4 linked regions of the Homo sapiens genome follow. The protein of the gene in region 2 interacts with the protein of the main gene of each other region in a biochemical or structural test. Each region holds a gene or a part of one and is shown on either strand. Other genes may lie near its edges. The genes, in order: MITF, LEF1, SMAD3 and NLK.

Region 1 (7,025 bases), on a different chromosome or scaffold from region 2:
ATGGCTCCTAATTTCTCCCAGTAAAATTCAAGGTTCTTAAGATGTCAGCTCTGACCTTATCTCTTGTTGCCTGCCTCCTACCTCCCTCTGCTACAGCCAGGCTGGTCTCCTCACTGTTTTTGGAATACCCCAGGCCCTTCCACCACTGGGCATTTTTATATTGCACTTGCCTTGATCATCCTTTGCCCAGACAGACCCAGTGCTCACTCCCCCACCAACCAGTATGTGCCTGCCTCCAGGAGTCTTAAGAACATTAAGTGTGACGTTGACTGTGGGAAAGTATTAGCATGGTGCCTGGCACGTAGTAAGTGCTCAGGAAATGTTAGCAGATGTTGTTCTTGTTATTTTCTTTACAGTTCATTCTTTAAACATCATTCCCATCACACTGATAGTGTGGCCCTTTTTTGACCACAGTATTTGCGATTGCTGTTCCTCCAAATTCTCTGTCTTCTTTGTCCAGCTATATATTTTTTTCCCATAGGGCTTATATTATAATCTACTGTATAATTTTCCAATATGTTATGTTTATTACGTGTTTCTCCATGCTAGACTGCAAACTCCAAGGGAACAGGGTTTTCTGTTTGTTCCTTGCTCACTATTGTGTCCCCAGAGCCTAGAACAAAGTTTCTCAACCTCAGTGCTATTGATATTTTGGGCCAGATAATTCCTTGTTGTGGAGGGTCCTATGCATTGCAGGATGTCCAGCAGCATCCCTGGCCTCTATCTATTAGAGGCCAGTACTCCTGCCTCTATCAATTATGGCAACCAAAAACATCTCTGAACATTGTCAGACATCCCGTGGTAGGCAAAGTACCCTCATTTCAGAACCACTGGCTTAGAACAATGCGTGACACAATAAATATTTGTTTGAGTATGTGTTGCTTTCTTCCTTAATACCATAACCCACTCAAGGTATGGTATTTGGTTTTTTGTTTTTGCAATGAATATTGTGTTTCCTTTAAAATAGATACCTACTAGGCTTTCTCCAAAGAGGAATTCATATATTGTTCATTGGGGCTAACCTCAGATATTCAAGTCTTTCATGAGGAAGGACATGTTTCATTTCTAACCCAGACATCCTTGCCTTTAGGAATCTGAAGTTGCTGGATTTAGATTATGTGAATCTCATTTTGGTCATATTGGTGGTTAAGGCTGTGTATAGGAAGACACATGCTGTGGGAAAAGGTTCCAATGAATTGTTTGCACACCGTTTCCTCCGACAAGGTTTTAGAAACCTTGTGTTCTCCTGGGAATGAGTTCTGAATGGTGGGTGGCAGAGGAAAAGCGCTGAATATCTAGAGTGAGCCCAGAATTCACATAGGCATAGTCATGGCAGGGAAACAAATGTGAAACTGTTGAATGAGCTCCTAGGAGCAGAGGAAGTCTCTACAGGTCTTTTGTACCCAAAAACATTTTAAACCGTAGGAGCATCTTTCAGGCTCATAGTCCTTTTGTTTGGTTTACTCAGTCCACATGGCTTTGTAGTTGTTAATGTCCTTTTCCTGGACAGACTTCACAGTTGGCTTAGTTTAATTCCAATTTCTTCTTAAATCTTTAGTACTATTTAGACAGCTGTTATTACATTTTCTGCAAATTAGAAATGGGAATGAAAGTGAGTATTAGCTTTATCATGGCAGGACAGGATACAGCAGTGATCCCCAAATGCTGATTCACAAAGGTGTGTGAACTTTTAAAGGTTTGGGTGAAATGAGAAAGACAAAGACTGTTGCGTCACACGCATACCTACATATATTTGGGTGTAAGGCCGCTGCCATTTCTTGGAGTTATGCTGAGATGTTTTTCTCCTGTCTTCATATTAAAAAATGCCCTTTCTTTGATGACATAATAATCCATTCTTGGCAAAACAAAACTGTCAATCATTTTTTGATTTCTGAAAGTTTTCTTGATTTTTTTTTTGGTCTGTCTAATCTGAGGGAACCACTAGCATAGAGATGAAGAGCCTTGTTCTGCCATCGATGTCTGTCCCTAACTAACTGGGTGACCTTGGGCAGGCTGGGTGACGTCTAATTTCAGTTTCCTCATCTGGCAAATAGGGGCCTGCCTCCAGTAGTCTCAAGAATATAAGTGTTACATTGACTGTGGGAAAAGTATTAGCATGGCACCTGACACACAGTAAGTGCTCAGTGCTGACACATAGTAAATGCTCAGTAAATGTTAGCAGATGTTCTTGTTGCTATTTTCTTTATTACCTAGCAGCGAACCTGGCATTTTGGAAGGTGTTTTGCATTTGCTTGACTGTGGTTGTCTTCTCTAAGGCAAGTGTTGTTACGCAACACAGTTCTTTGAATGTTAGTAAATTCCTTTTTGCTTTTCTTCTAATGAAGTGTTCAGATAAATATTTTACACTTTGTATCTTTCATTTAATCATAACAATTCTTTTATGCTAGTTAAAAAAACTAACAATTTTGACATTAGTGTATCCATAAAAATTCGTGTTCAACACATATTTATTGAGTCCTAGTATGTGCACATTAATACTAATAATGATGGGTCACATTTATTGAGTATGTACTATGTGTGAGCCCCATTCTAAGTGTTTTTACGTGTGTAAAACCTATTTAATCTTTGTGAAATCTGCATGAGGTGATCATAATAAATAAAAACAATAATGATATTAATTATAATTTTAAAAACAGTTAAGACTTATCTAGTGCTTCCTATGTGCTAGGCACTATTATGAATATTAACTCTATATTAATGCTGTTAATTCAACCTTGGGTGTATGTAATAGTTTATTATTCTCATTCTACAGAGAGGGAAACTCAGGTATGCCAAGTTGGTGGGGCCTGGAGTTAAACTGATGCTTCTGTAGCTACATGCTCTTGTCCTCTAGTCTGTACTATGCCTGGTTGATTGTGCAAAATTCAAAGATACATCATACTGTGCCCTCCCTGTGTGGTGAGGGAAAGAGAACTCATGGGTCCAGCTAATTATACAAGGCAGAGTGTGGTCCCTGTGGCAGGGTGGGCATCAGCAGTTGGGGGCATTTAACAGAGGAAGGGGAACTGGGGAGGCAGTTTTGTGGACAAATAGGGGTGTTTGAGTTTGGCCTTAAAGGTGAAACAATAGTCAAATGTGTTTCTCTACACTAAGTAAAATGTTAGACATCTTGGAGGGCATGGTCCTAAAGTAGACATTTAGGGTTTCCGTTTGCCTTTTAAACTTCTAACCTTTCTTTAAGCTCTTTCTTGTGGTCTCCAGGCACCTGATGATACCTCATGGTGGCAGAGAGGCTGCATGCATGTGGACAGGTTTAGAGGGAGCCCTGCTTAAGTGCTGTCTGTGGTCGCTGCTTTGCCACTTAACCAGTACATCTGTGTTCAAGAAACTTAACTTCTTGGAGTCTCAATTTCTCTAAGCTGTAAAATGAGATCAATAGAACCCACCCCCTTAGGGTTGGTAGAACTTTTAAAACTAAGCAAAAATGTATAAATGTGTTTAACATAGCACCTAGCACTGTTAGTAAATGAAATTAATTCCTCCTTTTCTAGTAGAATTTTACTATGGTAGCAGTTTTTACCCTTCTCTTAAGAATAACTAAAACATATATAGAATCATGCATCCAAAACAAAGTAGACAAGATTGAGGTGCCTCAACCTGCAGATGTTCAAATCGTACTATGCAGATTCGTTTTGTGGTATGATTAGAGGGAACACTTGATTAAAGTGGGATTCTCAGTCTTGGTTTCGTTTGTTATTGGAGATTTCCTTTTCCCGATTACTACTATTTACAGATTTTACTTAAGTTGATATATGTTTAATTCCCTTTGAGTTCTGCAGTGCAGTTTGCACAGGCTGATGTTTATATCTGCTCCAGTTGTGCAAGAAGTGGAAAATATCCTTTTTTTAGAACAGATCACATGTGCTTACTGTCAGGAATAGGACCTCAGTGTAAAAAAATGTATCTTGGGACAAATCAAAGTTACTAAATTTCCCTCTCCAACTGCTTTGTTTCAGGATTGGCAGTATTAGGATAAATAATAGGAAAAAAAAATCCTTGGCTACTTTCTTTTTGTCATCTTTCAAGGACAATAAGTGAGAGTTTCATTTTTTTTGTGTGTGTGTATGTTTGTGTGTGTGAGGTATAAAATGTACTTTGCTGAGGGTTTGTCTAATCGGAATAAATTATAAAAATATGTTTGACTACACTCCAAGTATGCATTATTTGGAGAAAATAATCATGAAGACAGGTCAAAGATATTAAATGCAGCCACCACAAGCTTTTGATATTATAAAGGCAAATTTGCAGTTTATAAGAAGGTTTTTGTGAGTCTAGTGAACATTGTGTACTCCGAGGATAGGAATTATACCAAGGGATAAGTCTGCATCTTTATAGAGACAAACGAGGTCGAGAAGACCCACAGGGAGGTCTGGGATCTCTGTTGAAATTTCTGCACCTCCCGTTCTATTGCAAATGATCTTGGGAGGAGGACCAGGTTTGGCTTCTCAATGGTAAGCTTATTTCTCTAGCCCATTTCTACAATGTGGCTTTCTTATTTCTTCGCTTCGTCTTTCCCTCCTGTGGCTTTGGATGCATGCTGTGAAGAGTAGAGAAGTAGACCTTTGGAGTGTTCACCTGAGACCCCTGTCCTGGGATTCAGAGTGATGAAGCTTTTATCTTTAATGGCTGACCTTTCTGGGGACTTCTCAAGGACTGGGTGCTGAGTGTCAGTCTCTGTGCTGGCCATAGGGAGTCCAGTGGAGAAGCAGATGGGTTCCTGCTAGCATGGTGCATACATCTTGGAGGTGGCGCACAGTTAACAATGAACCAAATACATGAGCAAGATGAGTTTTACTAACTGCTATGGAAATTAAATGGAGCATTATTGGTAGAATGGGCCTATGAAAGAAGGGGGCTTTTTATTCGGTTGTATGATCAGGAATGACCTGTTGGAAGAAGTGATTTTCAGGCAAGACTGAATATCTGACATAAAGGCACAAATCCAGACACTACCACTCACTGGCTCTGTGACTTTGGTCAAGTTATCCAACCTTTCTGAACTCTAATTCTCTCTTCTGTAAAACGGGACAGTTGCCATCTTGCAAGGCTTCTGTGAAGATAAAAGGTAATGTATGTAAAGCAGCTAATATTAGGCTTGAGGCTTAGTAGGTGTTCAGGGTTACCCATAGGACTGAAGTTAACATATGAATAGTGGAAAAAGAAGCACAGACATTAATCTTTGTTATAAGTGTTTATAACTCAGTCTTAAATGTTTTCCTAATGTTGAGTGAGTCAGAGATTCATGCTTGTCTTTATAAACCTAACCCTGGACTAAAAGAGGAGATGGGTCTTGTTAGTTTTGTTATCCTTTCTTTCCTCTAGGATCATCCTACTTGATGTCATCCCTTGTTCTCCTGACTGTTGTTGTCCTGAGATAATTAATGTCTGACCATAGTTTTTGGGGCTGGATTTTTAATTACTTTTTTGGTGTTAAGGAGAGGCCTAAGTAATTGAGGATTAAAAAGGAAAGCCTGAGATTGATTTCACAAAACATACACGCCTACCACGAACAAATAACCAGTGTAGAACTCCTGACTCCTAGTCCTGTGTTTCTGTCCTGAGATCATGCTTCCTGTCCACTCTGTTGTGAAAATGTCAGTGTTGGTGCAGAAACAAAAAAGAAGAAGCTCTCCTCCCACATACCACCTCCAGTGTTCACCAACTTTGACATCCACAGGAAGTGGCATGCATTTAATTTGACATCTTTAAAAAAATCTTCAAAGCATTTGGATTTTAGTAGCTGTGTTCTTTGATTCAAGTACCCACAGAGTGATAATTTTCTTTCTTTCTTTTTCTTTTGAGGTGGAGACTCACTCTTTTGCCCAGGCTGGAGTGCAGTGGCATGATCTTGGCTCACTGCAACCTCCGTGCCCAGGTTCAAGCAGTAGTCCTGCCTCAGCCTCCCAAGTAGCTGGAATTACAGATGTGTTCCACCATGCTTGACTAATTTTTTGTATTTTTAGTAGAGGTGGGGTTTCGCCATGTTGGCTAGGCTGGTCTCGAACCCTTGACCTCATGTGATCCACCTGCCTTGGCCTCCCAAAGTGCAAGGATTACAGGCATGAGCCACCATGCCCGGCCAGAGTGATAACTTTCACAACGAAAAATACTGGGTTGTGTGACAGCAAATATTTTAAGTCTAAGTGCATGCCCTATAGAGGGCACTGGTAGAATCCTGTCATATAAGAAATTGTGCCTCATTGAGCAATTTCAGGAAGGCATCTGTGGTCTTCACCCTCCCCACCCTTGCCTCTTCTCCAAAGTGGGGTAACTTGCTGAATCATTCACACACATTCATCAGTTTTCCCATGTGATTAAGGGCATCATTGGAAAAGTGGTTGTCCCCACTGTTGGGAGAAAGCATAGCTTGTATTTGTAGAATAGGTTTCCTTCTGGGAAGGTTGACTTGCCTCAGTGGAAAGAAGACTTGAGGCAGAGAGGTTTCACTTAGCCTGGTGGCTGTGGTTATATATGAAATTACGAAATGACAGACAGGAATGCTATATTTACTTTGGTACCTTTACCATAAAATATTCCTAAATACTAACTGATTCTAGGAAGCATGTTTTTCAAAAACATACATTTTATTTTTTACAGTTGGAGATTTGAAATTTGGTGAAAGGAAATGCTCATGGAAATCCTAAAGATGATTTCCTTGTTTAACTCAGGACCTAGCTCAATCCTGGTGAAGGCTACTAGAGAACCTCATTGAGATGTAGCCACACTGTACCTCTTGCCTGCAGTGTGTCCTAAATTCGTAGAGATGGTGCTCTAAAACTGAGTTCATGAACCAACACACAGATATGTCATTGGTCAAATTGTAACATTCCCTTCCATCAAAAGGACTAGGTATATATTTGTCATTGTTTTGTTTTGTTTTTAGCATTTGAATTTTTTCAGCGAAAGGTGGAAAGGTATTATTTCAGTGTTAGTTTTGCTCTGCTGTATTGGTGAGCCTGCATAGTTGCACCATCTAAATTTAGGATGCTGGCACCTCAGCCAAT
Region 2 (6,910 bases):
TAGTGTGAGAGAACGTCTGTTGAGAGAAATGTGGATTGGATAGCGTTTGGAGGTGAGTAGATGAGGGAGGTCTACCTAGCTAGTTATTACCCTCTGGAAGCACTTCAGCTGACAGAACTACAATGGGCTTTTGAGGCTCTCTCCTTCAAAACTTGCTCAAGACCATTTCTCCCATGTTTCCCGTGGTAGGAAGGATCTAGCGGTCATGACCTGCACCAGGAGGTCTGGCCTACCAATAGGACACATGTCCTCACAGAGGAGACAAACACAGAGGGCTAGGCTGATCAGGAAGAGAAACCAGTAGCTACAGAAAAATTCCCCTGGAGTAATTCATTAACGGTCACAGGCTTGTCTCAAAGTCATCTTGACATTGCCAAAGTCTGGTTGAGCTGATGGTAATTCACTCTGAATAGCCACAGGAGAGGAAGCCTTGCCTTGGTAGAACATGAATCCAGGAGTGGCAATGACCCCTTTCCTCCCACCTCCAGCTTCTGGGAATCTTTTTGCTTTAGAGCTTTGTGGTTAGGGGATTAACTAACTAGTCTTGAATGCTGGGACTAAGGAGTCATTCAGCTGCAGAAATAAAACTCAGTGTTAACCTTCCTAACCACACATTTTCATTTTTCTTTTTTCTCAAATGTTGGGTAATGTTTACTGTCAAGGAGCTGAAGCTGGCTTTTGTAGGTTATATTTCCAGTCTTAGGGACTTAAATTTCAAAGTTAACTTATGCGTTTGTTTCTCTTTATCATCTTTCTTCAAACAGAGCGTGATATCCTGGGGGTGGCTGCACTGTTACAGATGTAGACTGCCTCCACCAGGATACAGGGGTTGTTGCCTGGGGATGGACAGACAGAATGATGGAAGGTAGGAAGGAGAGAAGAAAGTGAATGATAATTTAGTTCCAAGGTATGGTGGAGAGAACACATGTTGAGAGTTCAGAGGCTCATCCTGCTGCCTATTAGTTGGGTGACCTTTGGCAAGTTACTGAACTTCAGGTAGCCTCAGTGTCCTTATCTGTAAGTGGGTGGGAAGATGCAAACTGTAATGATGATAATGTGAAATTCTAAAGTCCATGTCTCAGTGCCTGGCAAATCAGTGCGTAGTGGACAGTGTTTTTGTTCCTTCCCCCTCACCAGCTTCTTGCAGACAAGACCACCTTCAAGTCAACAAGACTGTCACTTTTATGATGCCAGGAGGCCTGGGGAACAGCCCAGCACTGGGACTCTCTAGGGGTCACCATGGGCCAGTCATTTTATGACCATATTCCTAAGTCTCTGCTAAAAAAACAGGATTAGACTAGCTCTGTCACGCTTGCTTCCTGCTGTAGAAGTCTGTACCTCTCTTCCTTCATACACACATGACATTGTGCAGCAGAAGAGTTCACACCCTCAAATCACAGGCTTTTGTCAGTTTTTCCCAAGGTGTAAAAATGGAGACAATTGGCATGAGGTGTGTGGTGTGATGCTGGAATTCCATTTTTGCAATTAAAATCTGTGAATCTGTTTACCTCTCATAAAACCAATCTCTAATATTCTCCCCTCAAATTGCACATCGTTTAAGGCTCCTGCCTCTTGTTAGTAGCATTTGAGAGTGGCGTAAAAGGAAGAGGACGACGAAGAAAGGGTCTTTTATTCCAACTCACTTTTTTTGTATCCTCACCAATTCTGAATAAGGAAGTGATATTACATGATGGGGCAGGGGTGCATTTTGTTCCTGGACACCAGCTTTGCTGCCCTTGCCTTGGCCTGGACAGCTTAAACTGACTGGCCAGTGAGCCCTGAGTGGCACCCTGACAGGGCTGGCCCTTGCCTGCTCCTGACCCTCCACTCCACCACCTCAGAGCTCACCCATAGACTTGTCTCCTTGGCCCTTTCTTCCAGAGGACAGCCTGGGGAGGAACCCCCAGGACATGAGCTGGCCAAGCGCTCTGCTTTTGGTAGGATTTTACATTTATTTGGGCTTAGAGAGAAGGAGTTTCCCCCTTTCCCTTTCTTCACTCCTGAGTCAGGGTCTGTAAAGCCCTATTGGCCCAGGGTCGGTGCTGTTGACCTCCCAGAAACAGGCCCACTCTTGAAATCTTTAGATTCACCTTTATTGCTTGGGCTTTTAGTAAGGAACTCTACCCATTTGGGTTCATGGTTCCATTTGGTTGATGGGATATTTTGTCAAGATTGGAATTTGGTCCAGGAGAGCATCAGGGGGGTTCGGTTATATGGGGTGGGGTGGGGTCTTGTGCCGCCTTTGCATCCCCAGTACAAATGCGTGGTGACTCCTGGTGGAGGGAGCCCAAGTCTGAACATATGTAAGATGGGCCTTGCCTCACTCCCTTTGAAGCCCAGCCGCAGCCGGAGAGCAGTAATTGCTGGCTTTGATTGCGCAGACTTCACTGGTGGGTTGGGCTGTGCCGGGGCTCGCCTGGCCTGGCCCAGCTTCAGCCGCAGCCCCCCAGTGAAGCCTTAGATGTGGGAAAGCTCCAGCCCCTGGAGCCTCATGCCTGTGGTTTCTTGAAAATAATCTGGACTGGACCTGTTTTATATCTGTAAAGCAACACTACAAGGCCCCCGTTTCTCCCACTTGGAAGTAAGACTTGGTCTCCCCTGACATCCCTGTATTTTAAAAGAGCCACCAGGGACAAACTGCCTCATTTCATAGTGAAGGAATTTCTTTGCTCTTTTTTTTTTTTAAGCACTAGTCCCTGAAAGGGATTAGTTGCTTTTTGGTAAGCAACTGTACAGAGGTTCTCTGAAGCCAACTTTCCAGGAGAATTTGCAAGGTGACCCCATGGAATAAGGAAATAACAGGTGGGAAAATGTGAGACTGTGGAAAGAAATGACTTTATTAGGAGATATAGACTCTTTCTTGGCAAGTGACATACTATCCTTTAGGTAAATGGCTATCTCTGGGCACCCATGTTTGTGTTAATCACTATATTATCACTTGTACTCAGCTTAAGAGAGGAGGAGAAGGCACCCTTAGGTAAGGCAGTGAAGGGACAAGAAGACTGGTGGAGCCGGAAGTGCAGGGTGCTCTAGATTGGAGGTGTTAGCCCTGCTTGAGAATGGGGCCACAGCAGGGCCATGGAAGTTGTCTGTACCTCAGTACTTCACAGTTCGCTGTGCCAGGCAGTGGTGGGATGGCCCAACAGAAGGGCAGGTTGTCTCCCTCAGGCGTTCCTGGCTGCCAATGGCGAGTCTATTCTGAGTCCCAGTGCTTGTCTCAGGCGCTAGCCTAGGACTGCAAGGCCAGGCCTCACCAGGAAACTAAATGTTTTCATGTCAGACTGAGAGGAAAACCTTCCCAGGAAGAGCAACCTGGACCAAGCCTTTGAAAATCTGTGATGCAAAATTATAATGTAAATAGGAATCTGTGGGGTGCCCTCTCTCCCACCCCAGGCTCTGCTAGAGCCCTGTTTCTTTCTCCGTAGAAAGGCAGGGTCCTTCGTAGCTCTTTGATCCTCCTGCGTGCAAGATCCATACCTCTGTGGGCCTGGCACAGCGAACTGTGAAGTACTGAGGTACAGACAACTTCCATGGCCCTGCTGTGGCCCCATTCTCAAGCAGGGCTAACACCTCCAATCTAGAGCACCCTGCACTTCCGGCTCCACCAGTCTTCTTGTCCCTTCACTGCCTTACCTAAGGGTGCCTTCTCCTCCTCTCTTAAGCTGAGTACAAGTGATAATATAGTGATTAACACAATGCTGTAGTGTTTTCCTGTTAAACAGGGAATGGTTGATTTTCCAGGAGAATAGAAAATGAAATTGTCATTGGAGGACCTCCTCAGTTGAAATCATTCTGTGGCTGATTTCCTCCTATTTTGTTTTTTGTTGGTTGGTTGGTTTTTGCTTTTTCAGTAGCTACCCAGGTATACAAATAGCTTCTTTGCAGTTCTGATCATCTTTAGGGGCCGCATTGGGCATAATTGGAATAATAATACTAGCTAACCTGCTTGCAGGGCTTGCTCTGTGCTGTGCACTTTGTGAGCACTTTAAATATAGGAGCCAAACCTCTCTTTCCAAAAGCCTGAAGGGCAGGTGTCCTCGCAGTTCCCATTCCATAGATCACCATCCTTCCATGGAAAGTACTCTGTGGACTGTAACTTGCCATCTAGACTTTTGTATTCATTATTAAACTATGTCAAAGTTTCCTTTTATTTCTCTTTTACTTTCTTTTTCCATTGAAATGAAAGTGTACGATAATCCACCATTATTTAGAATGAGTTTCTAAAAGGAAACTTGTGCTTGTAACACGGATAGCACAATCACAAGCACAAAGTGTTGGGATTCATCTGAGGCTGTCAAGGGACCCAGGTTGAGAAGGTGCTTCCAGCATCGCTGCCACCAAAGGAAAGCAGCCTCCCCAAGTTCAAAGCAGCGGAAGCAGGTGCTCTCTGGAGTGAAGGAACGGAACTTTGCCATGCTTTTACTTTCCTTTTGTCTTTGTCTCATCTTGTTACAATGTTACATTTTACTTTTAATCACTTTTTAAAAAATCTCAGATCATTAAAGCTTTGAGGATGTGGGAGTTCTCTTATTTGAAAATCATTATCACCAATATCTGGCAACATTATTTTAACATATTTGCTGAGTGTCCTTTCCGAGGCTATCATTAGAGATCCTTGATGTTAGGAAGGAAAAAAAAATCTTGAAAATTGTAAGATCTTAAGGAAAAAGGGAGCGGTTTGTATCCTCTGGGCTGTGAGTGTGAGCGGACAGAGCACATAGCGTCACGGGAGTTGGCAGTGCGTTGGGTAATGTGATTATGTCTGTCCTATGTAGAATCATACAGTGGCTTCCCACAGTGGACCAAAAACACCAAACACTGCAGAATGACACATCTTTCCCTGATCTGGCTGTTGCCCGCCTTCCCTATTCATGTTTGCCTGTTTCCTACTGGTGTTTTTCAAACTTTTTTTTTGTTCTGTTTACCATGACCCAGAGTATTCACTACACTTCACATCATAACTCTGGGCATACGTATACATGGAACCAAAGTAAAAATGTCACTATATTAACTCTGTAGTGTACTCTCAGGATTTTTGACTGATAGGGCAATTCATTTTAGCCATCCCCAAATTAACAAAATGGATTAATTAAATGCAGAGGTTGTAAGACATATATGGTATGGAATAGAGGTTATAATCTTAAGGCCTACGGCAAATTCATATTAATAGCATTTCATTTGTTCCTTCTTGAGGTGGAAAACGAAGCTCATTCCCAACGTGCAAAGCCAAGGCAGCGACCCCAGGACCTCTTCTGGAGATGGAAGCTTGTTGAAAACCCAGACTGTCTCCACGGCCTGCCCAGTCGACCCCAAAGGAACACTGACATCAATTTTACCCTGAGGTCACTGCTAGAGACGCTGATCCATAAAGACAATCACTGCCAACCCCTCTTTCGTCTACTGCAAGAGCCAAGTTCCAAAATAAAGCATAAAAAGGTTTTTTAAAAGGAAATGTAAAAGCACATGAGAATGCTAGCAGGCTGTGGGGCAGCTGAGCAGCTTTTCTCCCCTCATATCTGCGTGCACTTCCCAGAGCATCTTGCATCCAAACCTGTAACCTTTCGGCAAGGACGGTAACTTGGCTGCATTTGCCTGTCATGCGCAACTGGAGCCAGCAACCAGCACATCCATCAGCACCCCAGTGGAGGAGTTCATGGAAGAGTTCCCTCTTTGTTTCTGCTTCATTTTTCTTTCTTTTCTTTTCTCCTAAAGCTTTTATTTAACAGTGCAAAAGGATCGTTTTTTTTTGCTTTTTTAAACTTGAATTTTTTTAATTTACACTTTTTAGTTTTAATTTTCTTGTATATTTTGCTAGCTATGAGCTTTTAAATAAAATTGAAAGTTCTGGAAAAGTTTGAAATAATGACATAAAAAGAAGCCTTCTTTTTCTGAGACAGCTTGTCTGGTAAGTGGCTTCTCTGTGAATTGCCTGTAACACATAGTGGCTTCTCCGCCCTTGTAAGGTGTTCAGTAGAGCTAAATAAATGTAATAGCCAAACCCACTCTGTTGGTAGCAATTGGCAGCCCTATTTCAGTTTATTTTTTCTTCTGTTTTCTTCTTTTCTTTTTTTAAACAGTAAACCTTAACAGATGCGTTCAGCAGACTGGTTTGCAGTGAATTTTCATTTCTTTCCTTATCACCCCCTTGTTGTAAAAAGCCCAGCACTTGAATTGTTATTACTTTAAATGTTCTGTATTTGTATCTGTTTTTATTAGCCAATTAGTGGGATTTTATGCCAGTTGTTAAAATGAGCATTGATGTACCCATTTTTTAAAAAAGCAAGGCACAGCCTTTGCCCAAAACTGTCATCCTAACGTTTGTCATTCCAGTTTGAGTTAATGTGCTGAGCATTTTTTTAAAAGAAGCTTTGTAATAAAACATTTTTAAAAATTGTCATTTTATTAAGAGTGAAGTTCCTGATAATCTAAAATTGCTAATGAACTGAATCCACAGGCCAGGGCAGAGCTGGTTTGTAGAGAGGAACAGTTTGTGTGAGAGGGGTGCTGCTGGTGCAGCCTTCTCCAGGGACAGGCCAGAACCGGCTGTAAATGGGCACCTTGCCCTGTCTCCTAGACATGCAGTCCTCAAAAGTACTTGTATGGCTTGGGCCTCTCCCTCCTTTTCCAGGTGGTATGAAACAGGGTCAAAGGAAAAAAGAGGGTTGCCAGGATTCAGATGGGAGTGAGTCCTTTCCTGAACACAGATCCTCATGGGCTCCCACCATCTGGTTGTCGTGCTCATTGAAAGTCCACAGGTACCGCCTCTCTTCATAGCTCATTGGTATTCAAACTGGGCTTCCACATTGTGGGGTCCCAGTGGAGAAGGTATGTCTTAACACCCCCACCCATCTCCCCAGTCAACATTTTCTAAGTCCTGAGCTGTATTTCATAATTTTTACCTTACTAGTAC
Region 3 (7,025 bases), on a different chromosome or scaffold from region 2:
CTGTTGTCCTCGCCCCTGTCCACCTCTGACTCCCGCTTGGATCATAACTGCCTTTGCTCACGCAGGACCGGATCAACTCCCAAGTCTGAAATGTGTACTCCTAGAGCCTCTGCCAGGCTAACTTATCCTGGTCCTTCAAGGTGAGGGTTAAGCCCCACCCCCTCCAGGGAGGCGTCCAGACTTGCCTCCGCCTCACCCCTTTCTGTCCTCTGAAGATCTGCAGGCTCAGACCCACCCTTTGGTCCCTACTATCTTCTTCTGTGCAGACCAGGTGTTATTATTTGTTGTCTCTAAGGGACGTGTCCTCACTCAGCAGTTAGGTTGCAAGTTCAATGACGGCAAAGACAGTGTGATCTATTTCTCTGAAACCTCCCCCAGACCCTGACTGAAGCCCTCCAAGATTTGCTCTTTGAACAGGGAGTAGTTGACTTACCCGCGGGACGCCAGGGCTACCCGCAAAGGATCTGAGAAGGTTGGACAGTGGGTCTCCTCCTTAACACTCTGACCCAAGCACACAGGCCTGTAGCCAATCTCAGCCCAGTAAACTAACCCAGGATGAACGTCACGTCCAAATTAGAATGCTCTAAGAGGAACGCAGCAGGATTACTGCCCCAGCAAGCAAAAGTGACTAGCCCAAGTGCTGCCAAGCACAGCTTTCCTGGAGTCTGAAAGTGCTGGTGATTCACACGTTATTTGCATGTAAATGAGGGGCTTCTAAAAACATTTGCAGTCTTTGACGGCAAAGCCCATTTCTCCCTGCAGAGTGAAAACTCAAAGTCACTTCAATTCCCACCCAGGTTGGAGCCCCTCACCGAGGCCTGATGCCCAGGCGAATTTACAGAGCCAGCTCTCCGCACTTGCTGCCTGGCCCTCAGCTCACTCCCCGCCTCTGCAGACCCCCAGTCTATTGGGACTGAACACCAGTCCGGGCCTCAAGGGCGGTGAGAGAAACAGTGTTGCTATTTCCGCTTCCAAAATAAATGACTGCACCAAGGCCGGGCGGAAGGGTCACGCTGCTCCTCTATGCCAAGAAAAGCATCACTAGTGAGGGGGGAGCTGAGGTCATGGGTCCTCTCCCAACAGGGATGCGGTTCTGAGTCAGGGGCCCTCAGGCCAGAGCTGTGCGCAAAGAGGGGGTGAGCGGGGGACGGCCAGGGGGCAGAGATTGGGGCCACAGGACTGATGTCGGGGCTGACCGCTGCCCCTGCCTCCCAGGCCAGCCTGTGCCGCCCACGTGCCTACCTGGAATATTGCTCTGGGGCTCGATGCCTGCGGGGAAGTTAGTGTTTTCGGGGATGGAATGGCTGTAGTCGTCCAGTGGGGGGAACTCGGCCGGGATCTCTGTGTGGCGTGGCACCAACACAGGAGGTAGAACTGTCCGGGGGAGACAGAGCAGAGGTGGCTCAGTGTCGATGCCAGACCAGCACCAAAGTCCCCGCACCCCCAAGTGCACCGCAGACCCTCGGGGGGATGGGGAGCCGGGGAGAGGTGATGACCCCTGGCACCTGCTGTCCCCACAGGCAGGCCAGGCAGCATACCTGGTGTCTCTACTCTCTGGTAGTGGTAGGGATTCACGCAGACCTCGTCCTTCTTCATATTGAAGGCGAACTCACACAGCTCCATGGCCCGTAGCTCGTGGTGGCTGTGCAGGTCTGGCCATCGCCACAGGCGGCAGTAGATGACATGAGGGAGCCCCTTCCGATGGGACACCTGCAACCGGCCATCCAGGGACCTGCCAGGACGGGGAGGGGCAGAAAGAGAGGGAAATGTGGATTGTGCTTGCTTTCTGCAGAGTCCGGCCTCCTACTTTCAGACACTTGGAAAGCTCTCTCTCCCCTCATTTCTCCCAGATCCAGAGGTCCAGGAGATCAGAGCACTGCTAGCTGAGAGTGCTGGGAGGGATCTCAGGAGAAGACAACAAAGGCCCCGTGAGGACTCCCAGCTGGCAGAGCGGGCCTCACCCACCAGTCCCCGGTGGGTTCCCCAACTTTGTACTGCTCTTCAGGGAGTGGCATTCCATGGGAAGGGCCCGCACTTCAGTCACTTCAGTTGTGCTTGGAAAAGGTCCAGGAGCCACTCATCGGCTTCCTACTCAGCCCAGAGGTGTGGAGAGGGGACAGGGCTGGGGAAGACAATGAGAGTTCTTTAGGCACAGATATGAGGACTACAGTGATCCAAAGAAGAGTGACAAAGTACAAAGGCTGTCTCCCCTCATTCACTCAGGTCTTCCCTTGCACATTAGAAAGTCAGGGGAAAAAAAGAAAACTTGCCTTTCCTCCTCTTTTTTTTTTTTTTTTTTTTTTTTTTTTTCTGAGACGGAGTCTCGCTCTGTTGCCCAGGCTGGAGTGTAGTGGCGCCATCTCGGCTCACTGCAAGCTCTGCCTCCCGGGTTCATGCCATTCTCCCGCCTCAGCCTCCTGAGTAGCTGGGACCACAGGCACCCGCCACTACGCCCAGCTAATTTTGTTTTTGTATTTTTAGTAGAGACGTGGTTTCACTGTGTGAGCCAGGATGGTCTCGATCTCCTAACCTCGTGATCTGCCCGCCTCAGCCTCCCAAAGTGCTGGGATTTCAGGCGTGAACCACCGTGCCTGGCCCCTCCTTTCTTTTTTAGTTATTTGTGGTGAGCAGGGAGTGAAAGACGGAAATTAAAGGGATTTTTTTTTTTTTTTTTTTTTTTTTACTTTTGATACAGGGTGTTGCTCTGTCACTCAGGCTGGAGTGCAGTGGCATGATCTCGGCTCACTGCAACCTCCGCCTCCCAGGCTCAAGTGATCCTCCCAGCTCAGCTTCCCAAGTAGCTGGGACTGCAGGGGCACACTACTGTGCCTACTTACAATTGGCCAGTGCCATGACCCTGTGTGAACCATGTCTTCTATGGTGATTTGGCCAAGCAGCTATGACCCGGTGCCCTTACCTCTCAAGCCAGGCCAAAGTGTGGTCCCTGACCAGCAGCAGAGGTTCAGGGAAGTTTGTTAAAAATGTACATTCTCAGCGCCTACCCCAACCTACTAAATCAGAATCTTTCCCTTTGTGAAATCCCCAGGTGATCTGGATGATGAGAGTCTGGGTGGCTTACAGGAAAGGACTGGGGAGCTTGGGGCGGCAAAAGCATTGTCAGCTACAGGCAAGGCTGGGAGGCAGAAGGCTTCTGGAGGGACGTAAAACTTCAGATAGTGTCTGGTATTAGACAGGTGAGGAGGTGCCACTAAAATGGAGTCCCTTATTTAACACATATTTAATGAGCACCTATTATGTGTGACACTAAGGATACAGTGGTAAGGAAAGAGACTTCACTATGAGAAAAGGCCAGCAAAGTGGTCCCTGTCTGCAGGGACCCTCCATTCCACTGGGCAAGACCGGCATTAATCAAATAATCACCAAAACCACTTTGGGAGGCCGAGGCGGGTGGATCGCTTGAGGCCAGGAGTTCAAAACCAGCCTGGCCAACATGGTGAAACCCTGTCTCTACTAAAAGTACAAAAATCAGCCAGGCATGGTGGCGGGCGCCTGTAATCCCAGCTACTCAGGAGGCTGAGGCAGGAGAATCACTTGAACCTGGGAGGGGGAGGTTGCAGTGAGCCAAGATTGTGCCACTGCACTCCAGCCTGGGCGACAGAGCAAGACTCCGTTTCAAATCATCATCATCATCATCATCATCATCATCATCATCATCATCACAGAAACCTACAATTACACACAATGAAAGTGTCCTGAACGAAAATAACAAGGAACCCCAAGAGTGTATGACCATGGCACCCCACTTTGCTGAAGGACTGGACAGGGCATCTCAGAGGAGGTGATGGTTGACCTGAAGGCCTAAAGGGTAAGTAAGAACTAACCAGGCAAAGGGGTGCGGGAGAAGGGCAGTACAAGCAGAGGGAAAGGCACACACAAAGGCCCTGTGGAAAGTGGAAAACATGGTGAGGTCGGAAGAACAGAATGAAGGCCAGAAGGACTGGAGAGGGGATCATGAGAGAGAGCTGGCTTGAGACGAGGCCGGGGAGGCAGGCAGGGGTACTCTGCAGGGCCCCAAAGGCCATGATAAAGGCTTCTCCTGTTTTCTAAAAGCAGTATGTAGCCTCTGAGATGTGTAAGTGGGCTGTGCATACGTGTGAAAGAGACAGGCCCTGTGGAACTCTGGCTACGTGTGACCAACAGATTGCGGGTAGCAGGGATAGAAGTGGGGAGCAGATGAGATGGATGCTCATGAGTCACAGGTACCCTATTAAGAGGCAGGACTGCTTTTTCTTCAAGGAGGCCCATCCTAGGACCCTGCCAGTCAGTGCCATAATTTTTCTAATAGCTGGCAGGGCTGGCAGTGAGACATTTGCAAGCTTTCCCTCTGTGCCTTCTTATGACCGAGGGCACCCATTTGCCTGAATACAGAGAATTCATGGGCACTCTGTGAAGGAAGGGCTGGCCAGATGCCACCAACAGCACCAACCAAAGAGAGAAACAGAGGGATCCAATCACACTCTCCAAGCCACTGGCCTGGGAAGGGGAAAGGACAGACAAAGGTCATAGCTGGGCTTGGTCACAGGAACTGACCTGGAGCTGCTGACTAAGGGCATCTTGAAGGATGTAATTACCTTCCTCCCTTGGGGCCCCAGAACAAGGAAGCCCTACAGCTGAAAAACAGTAATTACCAGGCAGATCGAGAAGACAGCCTGGGACTCGTCCCTGAGGTATAAAAGGAGGACTGGCGGATGTGGAGCCATAAGACCTGGGGTAAAGGAGGGTTCTACTCTCCTAGCTGGGAGACACTGGGCAGCTCATGAGCTTCCTAGGACACTCAGTTTTCTCATCTATAAAATGGGGTATTCTGCCCCCCGACCTCCTGAAGCTTGGTTTCCATTTGAAAGTGCTTCATAAACACCCACAAATTAGCGTTATTATTCTCTATCACAGCAGATACTCCCCAAACCCAGCCCTGGATAAGTAGGGTGAGCTGGAGGTTGAACAGGAGTAAAAGGGAGAGTGGGAAGTGGTGAGTGGGAATAGAGAATTATTCAGCTGTTCTCCTTCTCCTGCAAAGCCACTGGGTGCCCACAGATTAGGGAAGTGGCCGTATTTGCTCTTCGGTGTTTGACAAAACTCCCAAAAAAGGGCCAGCTGGACATCATAGCCTCCTCTGCAAGAGAAGGCCTTGGAGAAAAGCTCATGCCAGCAGCGGGGGAGAATGGGGCTGTGGAGGTAAGCTCCATCTAGGTGATAGAAGTGGGTGGCCCTCTTGCCTTAGTAGTAATATTAATCATACATGAATCACTTGGATATTAATTAAACTTTTAAAAACAAGGGAGCTACAATAATCAAGGCAGTATGGTAATGGCACAAGGACTGACAAACGGATCAATGGAACCTAACAGAGTCCAGAAATAGTTACATATATATGGACGACTGGCTTCAACAAAGGTCCAAAGACAATTTAGTGGAGCAAGGACAGTCTTCAACAAATGGTGATGTAACAACTGGATATGTAAAAAAGATAATCTTCAAACTACACATTGTAACCCTATACAAAAACAAACTGAAGTGAAACTTAAACTCTAAAATGTCTAGAAGAAAACAGGAGAAAATCTTTGTGACTTTTTGGGATAGACAATGATTTCTCAGATACCACACCAAAAAGCACTTAATAATAATAAAAAAAAAATCAGACCGCATCAAGATTTAAGCCTCTGGTCTTTGAAAGACACTGTTAAAGGAATAAAAAGGCAAGCACTAACTAAGAGAAAATATTTGCAAAGCGTATATTTGATAATAGACCTGTTTCTAGAACTCTGAAAACTCAATATTAACAATTCAATCTTCTTTTTTTTTTTTTTTTTTTTTTTTTTTTTTTTTTTTTTTTTTGAGATGGAGTCTCGCTCTGTCGCCCAGGCTGGAGTGCAGTGGCACAACCTTGGCTTACTGCAAGCTCCACCTCCTGGGGTCACGCCATTCTCCTGCCTCAGCCTCCCGAGCAACTGGGACTACAGGCGCCTGGCACCGCGCCCGGCTAATTTTTCGTATTTTTAGTAGAGACGGGGTTTCATGTGTTAACCAGGATGGTCTCGAACTCCTGACCTCGTGATCCGCCTGCCTCGGCCTCCCAAAGTACTGGGATTACAGGCGTGAGCCACTGCGCCCAGCCAACAATTCAATCTTTTAAAAAAGAGATACATGATTTGAACAGACACTACCCAGAAAGATATGAAGACAACAAGCATATGAAAAGATGCTTGACAATGTTGATCATTAGAGAAGCACAAATTAAAACTACAATGAGATAGGACTACATACTTATTAGAATGGCTACAATTAAAAAGCCTGATCATGCCATGTATTGGCAAGGATGTGGAACAACTGGAACTCCCTTCCACTGCTGGTGCAAATGTAAAATGGTACAACTATTTTGGAAAACAGCTTGGAAGTTCCTTTCTAAAATATTTTATTTTGGGGGATACACAGTAGCTATACATATTTATAGGGTACTTGCGATATTTTGATACAAGCATACAATGTGTAATGATCAAATCTGGGTAATTGGGATATTCATCCCTCAAACATTTGGAAGTTTCTTAAAAAGCTAAAAAACCATAAGCCTACCATATGATCCACCATTCCACTTCAAAGTATTTACCCAAGAGAAATAAAAGCCTATGTCCAAAGACTTGTGCATGAATGTAATAGCCCCAAATTGAAAACTACTCCACATGTATTAACAGATGAATGAGCCATAACATATCCATACAAAGAAATACAACTCAGTAACAAAAAAGGATCAACTACTGATACATGCAACGCTATGAATGAATCTAAATTAATGATGCTGCGTGAAAGAAGCCAGGCATGATTCTGTTCGTGTAAAATTATAAGGTAATTTAAACTAAAGTAAAAGGCACACTAATCTTAATCTAGTGACAGAAAGCAGGGATCAGTCATTGCCTGGGGACAGAGGGAGTTACAGGGAGGGAGTAGGGATTGGAGGGAGCAATTACCAAGGTGCACTTGGAAACTTTTTTGGGGGTAAAGGTTATGTA
Region 4 (7,279 bases), on a different chromosome or scaffold from region 2:
TTAAATTTCAAATATAATAAGGAATTCAGACAGCAAGTCATTGACATGTAAATATAAAAATAGAAAAGCATTTGCATACTAAAACATACACCTGGAACTCTTTCCTTTTTCATACCAAATTGTATTTCACCTGTAACAGCTGATGAAAACACTCAATGCAGTTAACTAGAAAAACTTGGTTAAAAAAACAAAGACCCGAATCACGTGATAACACAGGAGGACGGCCATCCACAAGCCAAGCAGAGGGGCCTCAAAAGAAACCAAACCTGTACCTTGATATTGGATTTCTAGCCTCCAGAACTGTGAGAAATAATTTTCTGTTGTTTAAGCCAAAACAAAGAAGGACCTGACTAGATCAATTAACCAAGCAGCAAAGATGCCAAAGCACTGTGCTAGGCGCTGAGGAGAAAAGGATTACTACAGTAGACAATCCTTACCCTCAAGGGGCTTACGAATGTAGTCAGTGACACAAGACAAACCTGAAGTAAGATGGTGCACAGAGGTGTACTTTAAGTACATGAGACAAACTCCATAGGTGGTAGAGCAGTCAATCAATTAAAAACCTCTAGAATGGCTTCAAACCAAATATATGTGGGCTTTCAGATATCAAAGATTCATAGTACCCACTAGCAGAACGTTTGCTGTGTGAGATGTTTCAGCACTCCAGTTCTTTATTGCCCCCTTCCTTAAAAAAATAAATAAATAAAATAAAAACTGCTACAAGTCACATCACTTTTTGATAGAAATGTAAGTGAAAAATGCCTTTTGAATATATTCAAGAATGCTGCAACCCATTTCCCTTTCAGTATCCCTAGTTTTTAGCATTGTATGTAAGGCACTAAAAAAGAAAGTAAGCATCCAGATCTAAGAAGATCCAAACAAGTGCTAAAAGTTATTAGTAAATCAATGACAAAATTTAAACCAAGGAACAACCGTTTTCCTGTCTGTTCCATCCCCCAACCAAAGCTTGGAAATCCTCAAGAGTTAGGCAAGGATAAGTTCACAGTTAAATCTCTGAGATAGTCTGTGGAAGGGAAGAGAGGAAGGCAGGAACAGGCAGGTCCCTGAGCAGAATGACCAAGGCACCATTACCAGCTATACTCTTTTCCACCTTGAATCCCACACACCTTGAAGAAAGGACCACGCTGCAGCAGAAACTTCCTTGGGGACTAGCTGAGAAAACACTGGACTCTACTAGTTTTTTTAAAAAATGGATGAGATCACTTAGCAGCCTAGATTATCAAATCTGAAATATAAATAAGATGGCCAGTTAAAATGCATAAACAATGCACCCATCAATTTTAGCCTCAAAAACAATGACGAAAGGAGATATTTACCGGGCTAGTTCCAAAGAGTTCATTTTCCTGTGGTAATGGGCGCTTTTCTCGGGAGTAACAATTTTTGAATGCACTGAAAATATCAATTCATCTATCCAAAGTGGAATCATTAGTCCTTGGGAGAAAACCCAGTTCATTCTAGTTTTGATAGGAACAAACATATTTTATTATAAACTACTAATCTTTCTAAGGTTAGACCAAATAGACCAAAATGTTATATTTAAGAAGCCCTTAGGCTTTTACAAATATCCTAGCACTAGCAAAGGTAGGGTCATTTGTTAAAAAAGTATTATTTCCTACTACAGCAACTGACCAACAGATAACAGCAACTTAAGAGGCACTAAATGACACTAAAACATTACACTGAATGTGGGCCACTGCATAGCTAGTCTACTAACCTCATTTGTGGTACTCATGTGTGATGCTATATTTAATGCATTCTTATCAAAAGGCTACAGCTACATACTTCTCAACTGTAGCTTTATGGTTTAAAATAAACCACTCAAGCAATGATCTTAACTGGTTCAACTATGAATCCTATCTTTCTTCTGGAGATCAAGATCACAAAATAAGTGAAAAGACAGAAAGGACAGGAAAGTAGTTATGCAAAGTATATCCTAATGACAAGAGTATTATAAAGGAATTCAGTCTGGATCAGGTGCTAACACTTAATGCCACAGGGCCACTGAATCAAACACACGAGATGACCAAGGTCTTCGTAGGAATTAGTATTGCATACATTCATCTACTGATCCTGTGTTCAGTGGCTTGCTTAGGTTCTAATAGAAAAGTTTGGTAGACAGCACACTTATGTGTGTTGCTCATGAGAAGGCGCTCCACCAAAACTTGCCATGAGCCTAGACAGCCAATGCATTAGGCCTCTTTACCACATAAGTGAGGGTGGCTTCCTACAGTTGGGTTGAGAAGCTTGCTGCACCTTGGTCAACATGGAGACAACCATTAGAGATGGACTCATCCAATGACAACCAACAGAAGAAACCATGAGAGGTTGTGTTTTTCTTTGGATACTCACCAGACAACACCAAAGGCTCCATATCCAATAGGTCTATCCGGCTCAATATCCAGCTGCTGCTGTGGATGATGCGAGTGCTGATGATGGTGCGCCTTAACTGTAGCAGCTGCGGCAGCCTGTACCTGAGCTGGGGCTGCTGCAGCTGGTCCAGGAGCCTGCCCCGGTGCCGGTGATGGGAAATATGGCTGTTGTTGCCCAGGGTTTAACATGGCTGCAGCTGCAGCCGCTGCTGCGGCTGCCGCAGCTGCCGAAGAGGTGTGCTGCTGTACAGGGTGTACAGCGGCAGCCGACCCCGGATGAAGATGGTGTTGAGGGTGGTGGTGGTGGTGCAGGTGAGGAGGAGGGAGGTGTGGAAGGTGGTGGTGATGGTGGTGGTGGTGACCTGCTGCTGCTGCAGATGTACCGCCATTGTAAGCCGCCATCATTTTTGCGTTGGCTCTTGCGCCACAAAGAGACATTCAAAATAAATGCCCTTTGATTGGAAAGCAAACTGGGTCAAGCTGTCATTTGGCCATTTAAAAATGAAGAAAAACCACTCACTCCACCTCAAAAAACATAGAGCTTTATGTCTTCATCAGTCAATCCAAACAAGTTAGAGGATCTTGGTGTTTAATTTTGGGGTGAGCGTGTGTGGAAGGGTGTGGGTTGCCAAAAGGAAAAAAAAGGGAAAAAAGAAAAGAAAAAGGAAAAAAGGACCCCTTCCCCCCAGGATTCCTGCCACAAGTGGGTACTAAAACTCCATTCTTAATTTGGGGGAGGTTCCAACTTTGAATGTGGGAATAAAGGCCAAACCTCCCGACCCCCTGAACTCCACACACGAAAAGGATCAGGTAACACACCACCCTTGGAATCTTGAAAGAGGGTTGACTCATCTACCCCTTCCATTCCCACATCCTTTTCTAAACACCTACCACCTCCTCAAAAACAGGATTAAAAAAAATTCCCACCACCCTAAATGGAGAAGATGGGGGGAAATTTTCTGGGAAACCAGCTTCCAGCTTCCCCCCCCCCGAACTCTCAGGCCTTCCTACATCTCCCCCTACTCCTAGTCAGGTTGACCTGATTGGGGAGGGGGGGCGGGGGTTCCAAACTTTCCTGGGCAGAATAAGCCAGGGAAGGAGGCTGGAGTGAGGAGAGGAGGCGACAGCAGGACAGAGAGGAGAAAGAGAGCCGGGGCAAAAGTGAAGGGAAGGAGGTGCAGGGAGGAATGAAAGATGTGGGCAGCGCTCGGACGCCCAGACGGAGGGAACCGCCCCGGGAGAAGGTTAGGGTCCCGGGGCCAAAGAACAGGAGCCCCGGGAGGCGGGCGGGGTACGGTCGGAAGCGGGCTGACTCCTGCCCCCGCCGCCGGCTGCTTCTGCTGAGGAGGGTTGGGGGGGAGAGCGGGTGGGTCCCCCGCGCAACGGCCCCGCAGGGCTCAAGGCTGCTCCGTCTCCCCCCCTCCCCCCCACCCGGCTTCCGTCCCCGCGGCCGCTTTCTCCTCAGCCGCCGCGGCCGCCTTCTCCTCAGCCGCCGCCTCCTCAGCCGCCGGTTCCGCCGCGGCCGGACTCACCTCCCCTAGCAAAGCCGGATAGAGCGGAGCCAGCGTCGGACACGCGCAACCAGCCGCCGAGGCCCCGCCCCCGCCTTGCACGGACCGGCTGCCCTAGCCAATCCACGCCCACCTGTCCGCCACCGCCTCCAATCCTGGGCCAGGAGCTTCAGACAGGCGCACTGTTCGGCCAGTGGCAACAAGGTGTGGGTCTTCCGGGGAAATCCCGCCCCCGATCCGGGATGGGCAGATAGAAAGACCAATCAAAGGCAGAGTTTGGCTTGACCGACAAGGCTTAAAGCCAATTAAAAAGCAAAGATCTTTGTGACATTTTTCTTTCGCCTCTCTCCTCTTTTCTTCTTCTTCTTTTATTATTTATTTTTTTTTTTTTGGCAGGAGCAGGAAGCTGCGTGGTAATCCCGCCTGCAAAAGCTGGAAGAGAGGGGCGGAACGAAAGAACCAATCATGAGCCAGAGACAAAGAACAGAGTAACCAATCCTTGGGTTGAAAATGAAGTGGGATGGAACCTGGGCCAAATAGACACTTGAAAAAACAAATGGAAAAAAAAGGTTGATGTAAGTCCCACCCTTTAGATCTCCTATAGGACAGGATTGTGGAGAATTTGCTGTCATATCGAGACAACCTCTTCAAGGGGCGGGGCTTAGGGAAGGGGTGGGGTCTTAAAGTGGGCGGGACCTAGACGAAGAAGGCGGAGTCCAAATCATCACTGGTCCACTGATCCGAGATGTCCAATATCCCACTTAAGATGTAAAGTGTGGGGTAAAAAATAGGGGAAGAAAAAGGGAATGTTGAGCTTCAGAAACTCAAGGTCCAAGGTCACTCAACAAGAAGACAAAGGAAACTCAAAAGACTGACAGAAACTCAGTAGACTGACAGTTCGTAGTCTACGGCCGGTCCTCTCCATAGTTAATCCTGATCTTGGCAAAAAGAGGAGGAATCTCTGGCATTCAGAACTCCACTGTCGACAAATGATAAAGCTGTTGGTGCAAATTAAAACAAAAAAAGTAAACTTGACCACAAAAATAATAATTTTCCTCTATCTTTCTTTCTTAACAGGGTCACATTCTGTCACCCAGGCTAGACTGCAGTGGCACAGTCCTAGCTCACTGCAACCTCCAACTCCCGGCTCAAGCAATCTTCCCGCCTCAGCTTCCCGAGTAGCTGGGATTACAGATGTGCATCACCATGCCCGGCTGATTCTTTAATTTTTTAGAAACAGGGTCTTAATATGTTGCCCAGGTTGGTCTCAAATTCCTAGGCTCAAGAGATCCTCCCACCTCCCACCTTGGCCTCCCAAAGTGCTGAGATTACAGGCGTGAGCCACCGCCTCCAGCCTCTCCCATATTTTCTATCAAGTAAGTTTCTGTCATTGAAATCTTACTAAAATAGCATCTTTCCATCACTTCATTTATCTGAATTTACCCTTCCTTTAAAATGTGAAATAATAAGCTTACAGAACCTTATCCCTACTGAAACTGTATAGTTTACTCAAAAACTTGGAAGTCATCTTCGATCCCTCCTTTGCCTGTCCACATTGTCCCTTCCAATCTATCAGTCATCAAGTCTTCTTTTTTTTTTTTTTTTTTTTGAGACATGGTCTCTGTTGCCCAGGCTGGAGTGCAGTGGCATGATTACAGCCCACTGCAGCCTCCACCTCTTGGGCTCAGATGATCCTCCCACCTCAGCCTCCCAAGTAGGTGGGACTACAGGCACATGCCACCACACCTGGCTAATTTTTGTATTTTTTTGTAGAGATGGGGTTTTGCCATGTTGCCCAGGCTGAATCATCAAGTCTTAAACAATTTTAAATCCCCCTCACTTCTGCTACTTCCCAGTCACACAGCATTTACCCAAATTTACACCACTAACATCTTTAACCATTTCCCTGCCTGCAAGCTAGCTCTCCTTTGATCCATCCCCCTCTGGGGGCATAGTAAATTTTTAAAAATACAAATCTGAGACCAGGGGCAGTGGCTCACACCTGTAATCCCAGCACTTGGTGAGGCCAAGGTACGTGGATCCCTTGAGTTCAGAAGATCAGTCTGGGCAATGTGGCAAAACCCCGTGTCTACAAAAAATACAAAAATTAGTGGTACACATGTCTCTAGACCCAGCTACTGAAGAGGCTGAGGTGGGAGGATAGCTTGAGCCAGGGAGGTAGATGCTGTAGTGAGCTGAGATCCCACCAGTGCACTCCAGCCTGGGTGACAGTGAGATCCTGTCAAAAAAAAAAAAAGGCTGGCTGTACCCCTAAATAGCCTGGCATGATCTGGTTCCTGCCTACCTACCTCAAGGGTCTTATCTCTCCCTTCCACTCCACACTTCAGACATTCTGAACTTCCTGCAGCTCCTTGAATGCTTTCAAGCCTTCATGTATATCTTCAGCCCAAAACATTTCCCGCTCATCCTTCACTGCTCTAATTCATCCCTCAGGTCTTCGTGTAAATTTTACTTTTTTTCCTGGAAAGTTCTAACTCTGTTCTAGAGTATACGTTTCTGTTGTATATCTCCATGACACTGCCTCCCTCATATCGATATTTTAAGTGCTTGTTGAGTTTGACCGGGGACAGAGAGCTTGTCTGTCTCACTCAATGTTGTATGCCCAGTTCCTTAGGACAGTGCCTGAAAAAAAAGAAGACACTTGCTACAGATTTGCCTGAATTACTGAGTGCAGAAGTGGGTACAAACCCAAGCTCTGCCATTTACTTACTCTATAGTTTAGGCAACTTAACTAACCTTTCTCAATCTCAGTTGCCTCAACTGAAATAATACATGACTCATGAGGTCTATATGAGGGTTAAATGAGGTGATGTATTTAAACGTGCTTGGCAAATAGTGAAAATGCAATATAAATTCTCTTCAACACTCACCCTCATGTAATATTTGAGATGTTTCCAATTTTCCAATGCACAGCACTCTCCTCCAAAGTGTAGTTTCCTAAAAGCTTCTTAGATGTTCAGCAAATTATCTGGTTTCACCTCAGACCTACTGAATAAGAATTGGAGGAGGAGAGGAGGAATCTGTTTAACAAGCTCTCCAGGTCATTCTTACAAACGCTAGAGCTTAAGAAGCACAGGCCTAGAGTAAAGGAGCTTAGTCTTTGTAAACTTTCTTTTTCAGCGCTTAGTATAGTACTATAATAATACATAGAAAGTGCTTGATACATGTGAAATAAATAAATTAATCTAATCCACGAGAAAACAATTGTACATTAAGAGTTATTTATTCCTTCCACAAACATGTATTAAGCACCAATTATATCTAGGCATGGTGCTAACTTCAACTGTGGGGGAGAGGAGATAGATGTACAGATGCTTCTGGACTCATGATGAGTTTGTGTCCCTTCTTTTTTTCTTT

What was found.
Region 1: the proteins of LEF1 (region 2) and MITF form a complex in vitro, tested with the Homo sapiens proteins (2 studies listed by BioGRID).
Region 3: the proteins of LEF1 (region 2) and SMAD3 form a complex in vitro, tested with the Homo sapiens proteins (2 studies listed by BioGRID, with this or other methods).
Region 4: of the proteins of LEF1 (region 2) and NLK, one has a biochemical effect on the other in vitro, tested with the Homo sapiens proteins (4 studies listed by BioGRID).

What each region holds. Positions count from the first base shown.
Region 1 is NC_000003.12:69,742,439-69,749,463, forward strand, and holds part of MITF (microphthalmia-associated transcription factor), read left to right. Parts: intron 1-7,025. UniProt on the Homo sapiens protein: Transcription factor that acts as a master regulator of melanocyte survival and differentiation as well as melanosome biogenesis.
Region 2 is NC_000004.12:108,047,035-108,053,944, reverse strand, and holds the end of LEF1 (lymphoid enhancer-binding factor 1), read left to right. Parts: intron 1-5,193; coding exon of another isoform or gene 5,194-5,273; 3' UTR 5,274-6,397; downstream 6,398-6,910. UniProt on the Homo sapiens protein: Transcription factor that binds DNA in a sequence-specific manner. Participates in the Wnt signaling pathway. Activates transcription of target genes in the presence of CTNNB1 and EP300.
Region 3 is NC_000015.10:67,159,602-67,166,626, reverse strand, and holds part of SMAD3 (mothers against decapentaplegic homolog 3), read right to left. Parts: intron 1,733-7,025; coding exon 1,539-1,732; intron 1,375-1,538; coding exon 1,243-1,374; intron 467-1,242; exon of another isoform or gene 434-466; intron 97-433; exon of another isoform or gene 1-96. UniProt on the Homo sapiens protein: Receptor-regulated SMAD (R-SMAD) that is an intracellular signal transducer and transcriptional modulator activated by TGF-beta (transforming growth factor) and activin type 1 receptor kinases.
Region 4 is NC_000017.11:28,038,423-28,045,701, reverse strand, and holds the start of NLK (serine/threonine-protein kinase NLK), read right to left. Parts: upstream 3,026-7,279; 5' UTR 2,829-3,025; coding exon 2,371-2,828; intron 2,365-2,370; exon of another isoform or gene 1-2,364. UniProt on the Homo sapiens protein: Serine/threonine-protein kinase that regulates a number of transcription factors with key roles in cell fate determination. Positive effector of the non-canonical Wnt signaling pathway, acting downstream of WNT5A, MAP3K7/TAK1 and HIPK2.